Linked DNA regions of Homo sapiens. The protein of the gene in region 3 interacts with the protein of the main gene of each other region in a pairwise test. Each region holds a gene or a part of one and is shown on either strand. Other genes may lie near its edges.

Evidence for each region. Proteins that work in one complex are often made in the same cells at the same time.
Region 1: the proteins of WNK1 (region 3) and SIMC1 interact in a two-hybrid assay, tested with the Homo sapiens proteins (one large-scale study listed by IntAct).
Region 2: the proteins of WNK1 (region 3) and ZNF106 interact in a two-hybrid assay, tested with the Homo sapiens proteins (one large-scale study listed by BioGRID).
Region 4: the proteins of WNK1 (region 3) and MADD interact in a two-hybrid assay, tested with the Homo sapiens proteins (one large-scale study listed by IntAct).

The regions. Positions count from the first base shown.
Region 1 is NC_000005.10:176,342,924-176,346,423, reverse strand, and holds the end of SIMC1 (SUMO-interacting motif-containing protein 1), read right to left. Parts: intron 1,242-3,500; coding exon 979-1,241; 3' UTR 435-978; downstream 1-434.
Region 2 is NC_000015.10:42,446,142-42,449,641, forward strand, and holds part of ZNF106 (zinc finger protein 106), read right to left. Parts: intron 2,565-3,500; coding exon 1,931-2,564; intron 536-1,930; coding exon of another isoform or gene 518-535; coding exon 448-517; intron 1-447. UniProt on the Homo sapiens protein: RNA-binding protein. Specifically binds to 5'-GGGGCC-3' sequence repeats in RNA. Essential for maintenance of peripheral motor neuron and skeletal muscle function.
Region 3 is NC_000012.12:906,079-909,578, reverse strand, and holds part of WNK1 (serine/threonine-protein kinase WNK1), read right to left. Parts: intron 1,733-3,500; coding exon 1,545-1,732; intron 1,105-1,544; coding exon 787-1,104; 3' UTR 1-786. UniProt on the Homo sapiens protein: Serine/threonine-protein kinase component of the WNK1-SPAK/OSR1 kinase cascade, which acts as a key regulator of blood pressure and regulatory volume increase by promoting ion influx.
Region 4 is NC_000011.10:47,276,633-47,280,132, forward strand, and holds part of MADD (MAP kinase-activating death domain protein), read left to right. Parts: intron 1-99; coding exon 100-231; intron 232-1,532; coding exon 1,533-1,646; intron 1,647-2,366; coding exon 2,367-2,447; intron 2,448-3,500. UniProt on the Homo sapiens protein: Guanyl-nucleotide exchange factor that regulates small GTPases of the Rab family. Converts GDP-bound inactive form of RAB27A and RAB27B to the GTP-bound active forms.

The DNA.
Region 1 (3,500 bases), on a different chromosome or scaffold from region 3:
TTTCCTTGTTCAGGTCAGGGCCTGGAACGCCTGTGCGGGGAGGTCACTCAATTCAAAATTTTCTGTATGAAAGCATTTTTCACCAAAATGAGCCTCATCCCTTTATGCAACACATAACCTTACTGAGGGAGGGAAATACAGAAGCCACCTTTTTATTTCTCTTCACTGTGTACAAGTTCACTTGTTGTCTTGAACACTGTCTCAAATACCTGCTTTTTGTTTTGGATAGTACCTTGTCTGTATAAGAAGCTGGCCTTTCCATAGAGAGGCCCTGGAGTCTAAAATTATGAGAACAATTAATTTATTTGTGTCTTCTATTATGATCTCGTTTTGACAATAAAAATCCTTACTACTTTCTCAAATGTGGCTATTTTTTTGTCCTTTTAACAATAGTTATTCCACTCTACCCACCCAGAGTCACACTGAACTTGGTATTTTGAAAAACCATTGCCTTTTTATTGTCTCCTTTTAACATCAAATGTTTTATAACACACTTGATCCTTTTGTTTCTACCCCCTATTCATTACAGTCAAATTAACAGGCAATATAATAGGTCTAACAGAATGCTTGCATTTCATTAGGGAAAAATGAACGTCTCTCTCCTGAAACAGGTTGTCGGTACCTTGAATGACATAATATTGGTGTATAGACTAGGTTCAGCAGAGGGATTTTTTCCACATCTTGAATGAAAATGTTAAACATGTGATGCACAGAGTATTAACCTGTTTCAAAAAAGTATAGATAAATAATTTATTAAAAAATATATATACCTTGTATATTTAAGCCATATTTGAGAACAGGCTAGGATAGGATTATTTAAAAAAAGATATTTACTAGAGTTAGAAATTACAACCTACTGATTAAATAATGCAGGTTTGGTCCTGTAAGATTTTAACCACTTTTCATGCTTTTAGAGCTTCTGAGCAGTTGGAGAGAGAGTTCAGGAGGTATTCTTGGCATTCAGTGCTTGGCAGGCCCTCAGGAGCCGCTCCAGCCCTTTTGAAAGGGCTCTGCATCAGGGTTCAAGTCCGCAGCATAGAAGAGCAGGAGCTTCAACAAGTGCACTTTGTCTTGGAGTTGGGGGACAAGAGGCTCCCCCAGCATCTGGATCAGGCGGCTGCGGAAGGCCTCAATCTGCTTCTCTACGTCTACCACTGTGATGTCATCTCCTTGCTGGGGTTTGGGCTTAATCCTTTTGATTATTAAGTCCTTTCGGTCGATCACGGAACTCCTTAAGTGTTCTGCAAGAGGGAAAAAAGTCAGTTGGGTGCTCTGAACTGCTTTTTAATTCTTTTTAAGAAGTCTAATTTTGGTAGGTAGAGTCTTGGCAAAGACTTGCTGACTAGCTACAGGGATACAAGTCGAAGGCTGTGTGAGTGCCTGCAGTAACTCCACTTCCAAAAGGCCCTTTGTTCTCAGTTCTCTCGGGTCCTTAAGAAGTTTTACATTAAAAAAAGTGATATGGTTTGGATCTGTGTCATTTTTTATGATCACATAACATGGTCAAAAAATGAAAATACTGAGGAAACAATTAGACATATTCATCTAGTCCATGTTTTAGCCAATAGTATTTAACATGAGTATGATCATGAATAAACAACTAGACAGTCCCAAATTGTAATCCCTGATGTTGGAGGTGGGGCCTGGTGGGGGTGATTTCTCATGAATGGTTGAGCACCATCCCCTTGGTGCTGTTCTAGTGATGGTGAGTTATCATGAGGTCTGGTGGTTTAAAGTGTTTACGTAGCACCTCCTCACTCTTTATTCTGCTGTGGCCACGTAAAACGTGTCTGCTTCCCCTTGAGCCACGATTGTGTTTCCTGAGGCCTCACTGGAAGCAAAGGCCACTATGCCTCCTGTACAGCCTGTAGAACTGTGAGCCAACTAAACTTTTCTTTATAAATTACCCAGTCTCAGGTGTGTGTGTGTGTGTGTGTGTGTGTGTGTGTGTGTGTATACTCCTGACCTCAAGTGATCCGCAAGCCTCGGCCTCCCAAAGTGCTGGGATTACAGGTGTGAGCCACCGTGCCTGGCCTACTCCATGTTCTTGTCAACAGTATTTAACATGAGTGTGATCACGAGTAAGCAATTAAACATCCCAATCATAGGACATGTACAAAATAACTGGCCTGGACTCTTAAAAAATGTCTATTATGAAAGACAAGTAAAAGCTGGGAACTGTGCTGGACTAAAGGAGACCAAAGAGTATGACTGCCAAGTACAGTGCTTCATATTTGACCGTATCCTGGCTCAATCTAAAATCAACTACCTAAAAAGTATATTACTGGGACACTATTAGATAATATTCTATCAAGAACAAGTTTCATGGCAGGCTGTGGTGGCTCATGCCTGTCATACCAGTGCTTTGGGAGGCGGAGATGGGCAGATCACCTGAGGTCAGGAGTTTGAGACCAGCCTGGCCAACATGGTGAAACCCTGTCTCTACTAAAAATACAAAAAAATTAGCTGGGCATGGTGGTGCATGCCTGTAATCCCAGCTACTCGGAAGCCTGAGGGTGGGAGAATTGCTTGAACCCGGGAGGTGGAGGTTGTAGTGAGCCAAGATCACACCACTGCACTCCAGCCTGGACGACAGAGCTAGACTCCGTCTCAAAAAAAACAAAACAAAACAAAACAAAAAAACAAAAAAAGAAAAGTTTCGTGAGTGTGATAATGCACAGTGGTATGAAGTACAATATCCTTACGCTTAGGAGATACATGCTGAACATGCTGAAGTACTTAAGCAATACAATTATGATGGCGCACTTATCAACTGTTTCAGAAAAAATGGTATATACATGGATCAATAGGTAAACCAAATGTGTCAAAATCTTAGAAGCTAATGAATCAGCGTAAACGGTATATATATGGGCATTCGTTATACTATTCTTTCTACTTTTCCGTAGGTCTAAAAATGAAAATAGGAAAACAAAAAGTTATAAAGGTATCTCATCCCAAATCTACAGGCCAGCCCCAATAGATTCTAGAAGTGTGTGGAATTGAGGCAAATGAGCAGAAGGTCACATTAGGCAAATGTATTGAGAGAGTTCTGGGGACTTGAAGACTTCCAGTTGCACATAAGTACACCATCATTTCTCAGTCTCCTCATTTATCAAACGGGGATGATGGCACTTTCACTAACAGTTATTAAAAGGACTGAGCTACACTGTATCCAGATTTAGGACACAGAACAAATCATTTTAAGTGGTATATCAGGTTACATTTTAAGCGGTTTATCAGGTTACATTTTCAAGTAATACATTCAATATGTTTTTTCTCAACCTTCAGATAAAATGATGGAAAAGCAAAATCTCTCAAAACTAAAGTCTGTAATCTGTGAAGAAGTACAGTAAGTATACAACAGCATGTTCAAAAAGTCTGGAAACACAGGAAACAAAGCTGCCTTGAGATGGAAGTGCAAGGCCCTTTCAACCTTCAAACAGCACACATTTACTGAGCACCTACTGCATATCAGGAACTGGCTAGAGTCTGGGGACACA
Region 2 (3,500 bases), on a different chromosome or scaffold from region 3:
TTAACTGGATGTATTAGGAAATCAAACTTTTCTTTCCTCTTAAGCAAGGCAACAAAAATGTCCAAAAAAAGTAAATGGACAATCAGTGTTTGATAAATGACAAGCTATGCTCTGTGTCAAGCTGCACAAACGCTGAACTGCTACAAGAACCTCTTGGGGCTGGGCACGGTGGCTCACATCTATAATCCTAACACTTTGGGAGGCCAAGGTGAGAGGATCACTGGAGTCCAGGAGTTTGAGTCCAGCCTGGGCAATATAGCTAGACCCTGTCTCTACAAAAAAATAAAAGAATTAATGTAGTGTCACATACCAGTAGTCCTAGCTGCTCGGGAGGCTGAGAGAAGAGGATTGCTTGAGCCCAAGAGTTGGAGGTTACCAAAAACCCGCACCCCCCAAAAAAAACCAAAAAACACCAACTTCTTTCTTCCAAAATATTCTGCACCATACCTTTTTTTCCTTTAATTTTCCTTCTTTTATTTTTTCTCTCAAGACTTGGGAGTTCAGGAGAAGATCCATCCTGGAAGGATAAAGAAAACTGAATAAAATCCAATGTGTAAAAGCCATTATCCAAGAGGAGAAAAAGGAATCAATTCTAAGATAGCCATACACTGTTCTTCACTATTGCTACCATCTCTAACATGATCGTAGAAGTCTCACGCACGTGGTACCAACGCAAACTTTAGTTGAATAAACGTATCTGATTTAAAAAAAAAGAATCCAGGGTGAAGTGCCTCCTAGCATCCTAGAGGTAGGAAAGCCCATGGAGGTCAGGGAAAGCATTTCATCTTGGTGTAGTAAGGCACAAGTAGAAGTATAGACAAAGCCAGTAAAATAAATATATCTGATTTATAACTTGGCATAGTTTCTACTTTAAATTTCAGCAAGAAAACCTTTACAACAAAAAGCTTAACAGTCCATGAGACAAGCTCTTTGTCATAGGACAATCCCTCAGCTTGAAGTGTATTTTAAGTCATCCAGTAACATCCACTACATATAGCATCTAGCTCAAAGGAGCAGAATTGCAATTTGAAGCAAGTCTAAAATTCATGACCTTAACTACTATGCTTATCACCTCAGTATTAAATGAGAGAAGCCCAGCACAGTGACACATGCTTGTAGTCCCCGCTACTTGGGAGGCTGAGGCAGGAGGACTGCTTGAGTTCAGGAGTTCCAGAGCAGTATGGACAACATTGTGAGACCTCATCTCTAATATAAATTTTAAAATATTATAAAATAAATAAATAAATAATGAAGAGAAGAACCCATTTTTTTTCACATTGCCAGATCCCAGACTGTATCACTACCAGCAACTCTTTCTTTTCAGAAAGGGATACTGAGAGGGTTAAGCCAATATTAGCGGCAGAAATGCCGGAAGAGCAGAAGTGGTATCAGTGAAATAAAAGACTCTTAAAGGCCAGGGTGGGTAACTGAAGGACGAAGGACAGAGTTACACAGACTAAAAATATTTCTATACTCTGCTCATATATATGCACTCTAATAGTATTAAAACCATCTTAGTGTTAAGCCTATCACTCCTGAATCCAGCAATCATCCATGCCCTACAAGTGCAACAGTAGAACGCCTTTCTTCAGTAGCAGTGCAGAACGCATCTATGAAAACAGATTGGGTTACAGCTGAATATGTGACTTATCCTTGGTCAGGTGATACAAAGAATCATTGGCTTGGACACTGGTTTTAGATATGACTTCATATTTTCCTGGTACTGTACATTCATATTAGATTACATTTAATTTAGCAGAATTACTCAGTGTAAGAAACCAGTAGGATGAAAGTAAGAACCTCACAATTCTTCTAGAAGTTGAGAGAATCACAATCCCAGATACCCAAGAAAAACAGTTGAACCTTTTTTCATAAGCAACCAACTTGCCACATGCGATGTTCTACAAAAAGCAGAGGGAATTATACTCACTCCAGTGGCTCTTCGTTTCTTTCTAATACTTTGGCCATCATTTTGTTCAGCACCAGAGGTACAGCTACTATCTGTGGCTGCATCCGCTAAACTGGAGATCGCAAGGGCTGAGGATGCGCTTGATGACAGACAGTTTCCCTCTCCATTACTCTCCTGGGAATTCTGATTCTCTGACGGTGGTATAGACCTCTCCTGGCTGTTCAAGTCTTTTGCCAAATGCATCAAAGGTATTATATGGTCAGAGGATAATTGTGCACTATGTCGCCTTTGGGTAGCAACATTTTCAGCCCTTTCACCTGTTCGGAGGGAGGCAGCCCGAGGTGTCACTTCTTGTTTGAGGTGCATGGTTGCTTTCTGGCTCTGTCCAGCCCTCAATGAGTTACTAGGTGAAACCATCTGCTGGGGCTCATTTTCTTTGCCTGTACCTTCCTCACTGAAGAAGCTATACACAGAAGGAGCTCTGTCCATGATCACGCTGCTCTCAGAAAGGCTTCGCTTTCTTGCCAAGCCAGGGGACGAGGAAATGGAAACACCTTCCCACTGGAATCCTTCTAGACTGGACAGATCAGGTTCCCCATCCAAATCTAAGGCTTCTTGTTCATTTTGAACAAGGGGTACCATTTCTATGCCAAACCTTAAGGAAGAAAGAAAAAATGAAAACATAAATTGGATATGGTTGTTGGGAGGGGCATTATTTTTTAATGTGCCAGGCTCTCTCAAGCACTGAGGTTATAAAAAGTAAGGTGGCTCTTGCCTTCAAGGGGCTCACAGTCTAGTCAGTGGTACAGATATAAATATATTACGTTGTCACAAGTACCAGATTAGAGGTTTGTATACAGCTATAATAATATATTTGAGGGAGTAAAAATTGAGTTTTGTTTCATATGGAGCGCTAAATCTATAATAATACATACAGCATATAATTTTTAAAAGCAAACAAACCAAAACAAAAAAAAAAACCCTTTTACTGAGCACTTACAAGTGCTTTATACTTACAATTTCAAATGCTACTCACAAGGTGTGGGAAAGGAAAGTGGGGGGAAATAAACCCATTATTTCAACAAGTACAGAAATGCCCCTGAAGCCTGGAGAACTGTATCATCATGCAGCAGAGTTATGACTTTCAAGTAGCAAACTTACGTTGAACACTGTTTTAGCATTCAGAAAAGTCTAGTACCTCAACATAAGATGAAGAGCCAAAATATTACACAAGCGCTTAAGAGAAAGCATGTTGTAGTCATAAAGATAATGCCCAGAGTACATACAGAAAAGTTAACTATTCGTAGGTTCTAAGTAAAAGGTAATGAGAACAGTTGTATTTAAAAGTTATAGCACGCATTCCAAAATTAAGATCTAGAAAAAGACAGAGATCTATAGCTCTACATTTTTATGCTGTCATTTTCTACCCCTATAAAGTGACGGATTTTACCCCTGTAAAGCCATGACTTTTTTCCTACGTCACCACCTTGTTTCTCAAGTAGGTGTGCTTCCATTTTAACCTGCACTCTCTGCTAGGAAATACTTTATTCCATCTGTCATAGAGTATCAGTCACTATTTGATATTAAATCA
Region 3 (3,500 bases):
GTGTCTCAATAAGTAAAGGACAGAGCTAGCTTTTTTTGGAACTTTTTAAACGTTTCATATTTTACTCTTAAAACTACTGTTGTCCAACAACATTTTATATATCACAGTGTTTCCACATCAAAACTGATGGCAAAGTTACATGTCCGCAGGGAACTTAATTTTTTTTTTTTCCTAATTGCTAATGCTGCAGTCAAAGCTGCTAATATCTTTTGCTTAAAGCACTAATGACCTATCATAAGAAAGAGTTGCACCCCAGTACCCTGGTATTTTTCACTGGGTTCTAAAGAGCAAAGAAAAAATAAAAAAGAGAGGGGTAAAAAAAAGGGAGGAGGGCAGGGTAGGAGAGAGCCCAGTAGGTGGTTTTTGTCCTGTGGTTCGGATTCTTGAGGGAGTGAGGGATTCAGGGCATGTACCAAAAGCAAGAGCTCCACCCACTCGAAATTACAGATGGGTTTGATTTTACATTGAGTTCTCCAGCTTCCTTATGAACAAGACTTTCCTAGCCCTCATCCTCATTACTGAGTATAGATAAACAGGAAAGCATGGTCTGAAGCTGCCCCTTGACAAAAAAGCTGTTCTTTCCTTCCTCTCCCATTCCAATAACTGGAGCGGGGGAGACTCTCCATTCTGAGGGCTCAATGCAGTATTAAAAACATTCCCCTCTGGCAAGAAATAACCAGTTAAATGCAGCACTAGTAGTTAGTATATAGGCTACTTCCCACCCCCACCCACCCCCTCAGCATTCCATCTCCTGCCCCCAGATCTATTCAGTTAATGTCTCTAGGTCTAAGTGGTCCGCAGGTTGGAGCCTGGGGGGTTGCTGATGGATTTCTGCAAATTGCTGATGTTGAAATTCTGCAAGGAGGCAGTTCCCACAGGTTGGAACTGGCCAAGTGGCTGTGGTGCTGGGCCACCCGTCCCACTCCATTGAGCGCCAAATGGGGTAGCTGGAAAGCCATACTGCTGTGGGGGGCACATAGACTTGGTGAAGTGACCTAGAGAGGTAGCTGATGCTGCAGAGATGGGGGCAGAGCCACCCAGGTTCGAGGTCATGGAGATGCACAGTTGCCCAGGTGCAGAGAACTTCCTTGCCATTCCAGGGCCCTGAAAACAAAACCACCACGTGTCAAGTCTGGTGTGGGCCATGGTATAAAATGTGTGGCGCTAACATATACTTCTAGTATAATCCTGTAAGATACAGCAGAACAGTCTTCTGTAGTATTTATTGGCTCTTTATATTTACCAAGTAAGGGTGAAAATAATCCTCATGAGAGGGAGGGATGTCATGTGCGTGTGTGTCTGTGTGTGTGTAGTTGAGGATGACGAAGGAAAAACGAAGAAGAAAAAGTTGAGCTGACCAACAAGAGGTTAGGAATTCAGGGAAGGAAAAATAAAAGGGTACCTGGGGGATTTTTGCCTTGTTTTTCTAAAGTATTAAAATTGAAGAAGGTCGTGGCGTAAGACGTTAAGCAGCAGCTTAGTTGTTTCTATCACCTTGACTCAGATGTGTGTTACGGATTCTCTGCGGCAAAAGAGAGACTTACCTCGTAATTCATGTGCCCTTTGCTTCCTCTCCTGCCTGAGAGATTCATGGCATCTCGGGCCCAATTGTCTACCAACTTGTGCAAGTCATCTGTGAATGTGCCCTTCCTGCTGGACGTCATGGCAGGAGGCTGAGCTTGGGCGGCTTGGCTGTTCACTGTTGCCCCAACAGTGTTTGTGCTGCTGGTTCCTATTATAAGCAACAGAATACGAGCATTAAAAGAAGCCTAGGTTACAATTTCAGGAAGAGGGAAAACTTCACGGGATGATGAATGGCAAGCCACAGAATGAGAAGAGGATGAACTGGGAAGCCATGCAAGAGGGAAGATTCCAAGGTTTTGTTTAGCCATTTGTTTTGGTATAATAGGGTGATGAAAACAGTTTCTCTTCAGTAGCTGCTGCTAAGGCTGAACAACTCAGGATGACGGTAGGTACACAGGCAGGGGCCTCTTTCAGTCCATTCACAAAGCACCTAAGAGTATTGGAACTGCTCGCCAGTACGCTATTCCCAGCATCACGTTGCTGATGGAGGTGTGATACAATCAGCAAGGCTAGTTGCTCTGGAATTTTGCAGAATGCAGGGAAAAAGAGGTTTTCTTGTGCATTGGGCACGGTTAAAGTAGGAGTAGGAAAAGATGCTTGGCTAAGGATAAGGAGAAGGTGGGTTTCCAAACCATTGGACACTGCCACATTCTTTAGCCTTTTTTTTTTTTTTTGAGATGGAGTCTCACTCTATTACTCAGGCTGGAGTGCAGTGGTACGATCCTACCTAACTGCAACCCCTGCCTCCTGGGTTCAAGCGATTCTCCTGTCTCAGCCTCCAGAGTAGCTGGGATTGTAGGTGTGCACCACCATGCCCAGTTAATTTTTGTATTTTAGTAGAGACAGGGTTTTGCCGTGTTGGCCAGGCTGGTCTCAAGAACTCCTGACCTCAGGTGATCCGCCCGCCTTGGCCTCCCAAAGTGCTGGGATTACAGACGTGAGCCACCACGCCCGGCTTTTTTTTTTTTTTAAAGGAAGGGTCTCTTCTTTTTCTGTCACCCAGGCTGGATACAGCGGCACAATCACGTCTCACTGCAGCCTCCAACTCCTCCTGCCTCAGCCTCCCAAGTAGCTTGGGACTAGACGTATGCACTTCCACACCCAGTTAATTTTTTACTTTTTTATATAGACAGAATCTCCATATGTTGCTTAGTCATGAACTGCTGGGCTCAGGCAATCCTGCCATGTCAGCCTCCCAAAGTGCTGGGATTACAGGTGTGAGCCACCATGCTCAGCCTAGCCATTCTTTAAATAGAGAGAGGTAATAAGAGAAGTAGCATGCTGTGTTCAGAAAAGTTTTTCACCTGGACCCATAAACATGAATTTGCAAACATAAACTTGGGAGGGGTTAACCTCTCCCAATTTCCCATGAGTAAAGAACAAGATTATTCATGAGGAAAGGACTGTATGGTGTGCCTGAATCTTTCAACTTCAGGAAGACATGGTTTTCCTGAAGATGACCTCAGTTTCAATTGGCTCAAGGATTCCCACCGCTTCTCCCCACTCTTCCCAGAACAGCAAGCACTCCCATGTAGAAGCGACAAGAAAATGCAGCTGAGGCAGGGTGCAAAGGGGAGGAGGAAGCTTTGCGGTTATGATGAAGGAACTCTATTTCTGCGGTTTGATGAGAGAGGAGGGAGTCTATGCCTGCCTGATTTCGGCTCTGCTGGAGGGCACACTGAAGATTATTCCAAGAGGCACGTTTTGGGGAAGAGGGAAAGAAGAGTCATGGTCTTGTCTGTTTTCCTTACCCCCCACTGTCTTACCAGATCTCACGTGTTACAGAATAAATAAAAGCTCCTAAAGTAAGTTGTGAACCACTAGTCCTTAAGGTACCCAAGTAATGCGGGGGTAAGTAAGTGCATGCGTTATCCTGCTTTCAAGGTCAAAGCAGCACCAGATCACAGCAGCACACC
Region 4 (3,500 bases), on a different chromosome or scaffold from region 3:
GCTCGATGAAGTGGAAACCAAGTTGTAATGTTGGAAGCTGTTTTCTTGTAAACCATATTTTATGTTTTGGAGTGATTCTTACTGGATGGCTCATGACAGGTGGTGCTACAGTCCCGAGACTACAATGCACTCTCCATGTCTGTGATGGCATTCGTGGCAATGATCTACCCACTGGAGTATATGTTTCCTGTCATCCCGCTGCTACCCACCTGCATGGCATCAGCAGAGCAGGTGAGTCTCAAGGCGACTTCCGGCTTTCTCACCTCTGTCTTCCTGAGGGAGGAGGCTTAATGCTCAAAGAAGTTGTAAGTGAGTGCTGGTCCTCAATCCTTTGTCATAACTTATTTGTCTACAAAATCTGACTGATTTGAACTGATCTGGTGGCAAGGCTTATGCTATTTTAGTTTTCATTTATCACAACAAATGTTAATGACTGTAGGCCACTGGCTACACTGCAGCAGGTGTTACGTGTGTTACGTAATACAGTAGTTCCTCCTTATCTGTGGAGGACACATTCCAAGACCCACCAGTGGATGCCTCAAACCACAGATAGTTCCAAACTCTATAGATACTTTGTTTTTTTCTATACATATATACCGGTGATACCGTTTAATTTATGAATTAGACACAGTAAGAGAGTAACAGTTTTCTCTTTGGGCATATATTTGGTGTTTTTTGGAGACAGAGTCTCCCTCTATCCCCCAGGCTGGAGTACAGTGGCACAATCTCGGCCCACTGGAGCCTCTGCCTTCCAGGTTCAAGTGATTCTCCTGCTTCAGCCTCCCTAGTAGCTGGGATTACAGGCACTGCCACCACCACACACCAAATAATTTTTTGTATTTTTAGTAGAGGCGGGGTTTCACCATGTTGGCTGGGCTGGTCTTGAACTCTTGACCTTAGGTGATCCGCCTGCCTCAGCCTCCCAAAGTGCTGGGATTACAGGCATGAGCCACCGTGCCCAGCCTCTTTCTACATATATTTGGCTTCTCTTTGGCATATCCCAATTGCCAGCATCAGTACCCTTGTGCTTTGGGGCCATTATTAAGTAAAATAAGGGTTACTTGAACACAAACGCTGAGATTGTGTGACAGTTGATCTGATAACCGAGATGGCTACAGGCTGGACACAGGGGTGATTCATGTCTGGGTGGGACAGAGCGGGACAGCATGAGATTTCATCATGCTTCTCAGAACTATTGTCCTGCACTTCAGATATGATCAAGCTGCAGTTTAAAATTTATGAATTGTTTATTTCTGGAATTTTCCTTTTAATATTTTCAGACTACAGTTTGCCTCAGTTAACTGGAATCACAGAAAGTGAAACTGTGGATAAGAAAGACTACTGTATACAAAAAAATGTACCATGTTACCTTTCAAAAAATCTGAAAAATTCTGAATTTTCAAATACATCTGGCCTCAAGAGTTTTGGAAGAGGGATTGTATCTGCATTTCCTTATCTAGAAGAATCCAGACTTGATAAGTGCTCATGATAGGTTTTGTCTTTGTTTCTCACCTTCTTTATCATTTCCACAGCTGCTGTTGGCTCCAACCCCGTACATCATTGGGGTTCCTGCCAGCTTCTTCCTCTACAAACTGGACTTCAAAATGCCTGATGATGTATGGCTAGTGGATCTGGACAGCAATAGGGTGAGGTTCTTGGCTGAGGCATTGTAGAGTCTAGAGGAGGATTGCATTCTAGACCCAGTCCTGAGATATCTGTTTCTAGATTCCTTTCAGGAACGTCCTAAGTTGTTGGATAATTTCTATTGCGAGACTTACTGAAACAAGTTTTTTTAAATGCTCCTTTTACCTTATTAGCCAAATAAACCCTTGGTTAGGTCTCAGAGAATTACAGGATTTATTTTTGCCAGAATTAAGTGACCCCCCACCATATCCTCCAAGAGCAGTCAGACAGTTGTGATCTGAGGGCCATTACATGTGGTATAGATCATCTCTTAATGGTTTCCCTGGGGTATAGTTTCCAGTAAGAAACTGTCTTTCAGTGCAGGCTTAATTAATTATATGACCATTCTGCAATGTGAATACATTCAGACTTTGGTGGGAAGCCCTTATGTGTGCTCATTGTAAAACTTAAAAAAAATAAAAATAAGCGTAAATAAAATAAGTGAAAAGAAAAACCATAATCCTTTTATCTAGAGATAATAACCAATAACATTAAGTTATATTTCATTTCAGATGCATATGTATGTCATATATGTGTGTACATATATCTTACTGTGCAGTTATATAATGTATATTCGTTTATATAATAATAATGTATATACGTCCTCTTATTTTTATTTATGTAAGTGAAATTCCTGAGCAATAAACTCTAAGGTCACGTCTTTTATCATTTCTCTGGTGCAGGTGATTGCCCCCACCAATGCAGAAGTGCTGCCTATCCTGCCAGAACCAGAATCACTAGAGCTGAAAAAGCATTTAAAGCAGGTAGGTGAAGAACGAAGGAAAGAAAGGGGAGTATTAGATGCTGTGGGATTCCTATAAGAAGACAGCTATTCTCAGAGCCAATTTCCTATCAAACTTCAAGTGGAGTAGTTTTCTTCACCCTGGATGGGCTTAAGAAAACGCGTATCCCATTTCTGGGTGGCAGAGTGAATTTCTGTTTTTGATTCCAATTCATTGTATGCTTTACCATCTTCTAATGCTTATGATGCTGTATAAAATAGCCCTTCACTCTCTGTTTCTTGTATGTGTGCCACTCTCTATGGCTTCAGAACATTTTCTCAGTCTTTTTTTTTTTTTTTTTTTGAGATGTGGAGTCTTGCTCTGTCCCCTAGGCTGGAGTGCAGTGGCGCGATCTCGGCTCACTGCAAGCTCTGCCTTCTGAGTTCACGCCATTCTTCTGCCTCTCCAGGAGCTGGGACTATAGGCGCACGCCGCCACACCCGGCTAATTTTTTTGTATTTTTGGTAGAGACGGGGTTTTGCCATGTTAGCCAGGATGGCCTCTATCTCCTGACCTCATGATCCGCCTGCCTCAGCCTCCCGAAGTGCTGGGATTACAGGCGTGAGCCACTGCGCCCGGCCGATTTTCTCAGTCTTGTTAGGTGGAAGTTAGTAGTGTGGACCGTCTGGCTGCTTTTATATTATCTTCTAGAGTTGATCCTGAGGGTTCCTTTCTTCAAAAATTCCTTTATTTGGCTGGGCACGGTGCCTCATGCCTGTAATCCCAGCACTTTGGGAGGCCGAGGCAGGTGAATCACGAGGTCAGGAGTTGAAGACCAGCCTGGCCATTATGTTGAAACCCTGTCTCTACTAAAAATACAAAAATTAGCCGGGCATGGTGGTGGACGCCCGTAGTCCAGCTACTCAGGAGGCTGAGGTAGAAGAATCACTTGAACCCAGGAGGCAGAGGTTGCAGTGAGCCAAGATTGCGCCATTGCACTCCTGCCTGGGCCACAGAGTGAGACTCAGTCTCAAACAAACAAAAAAATTCCTTTCTTTGAGTAATTCCTCACATCCATTTTTTATTGATTGATTT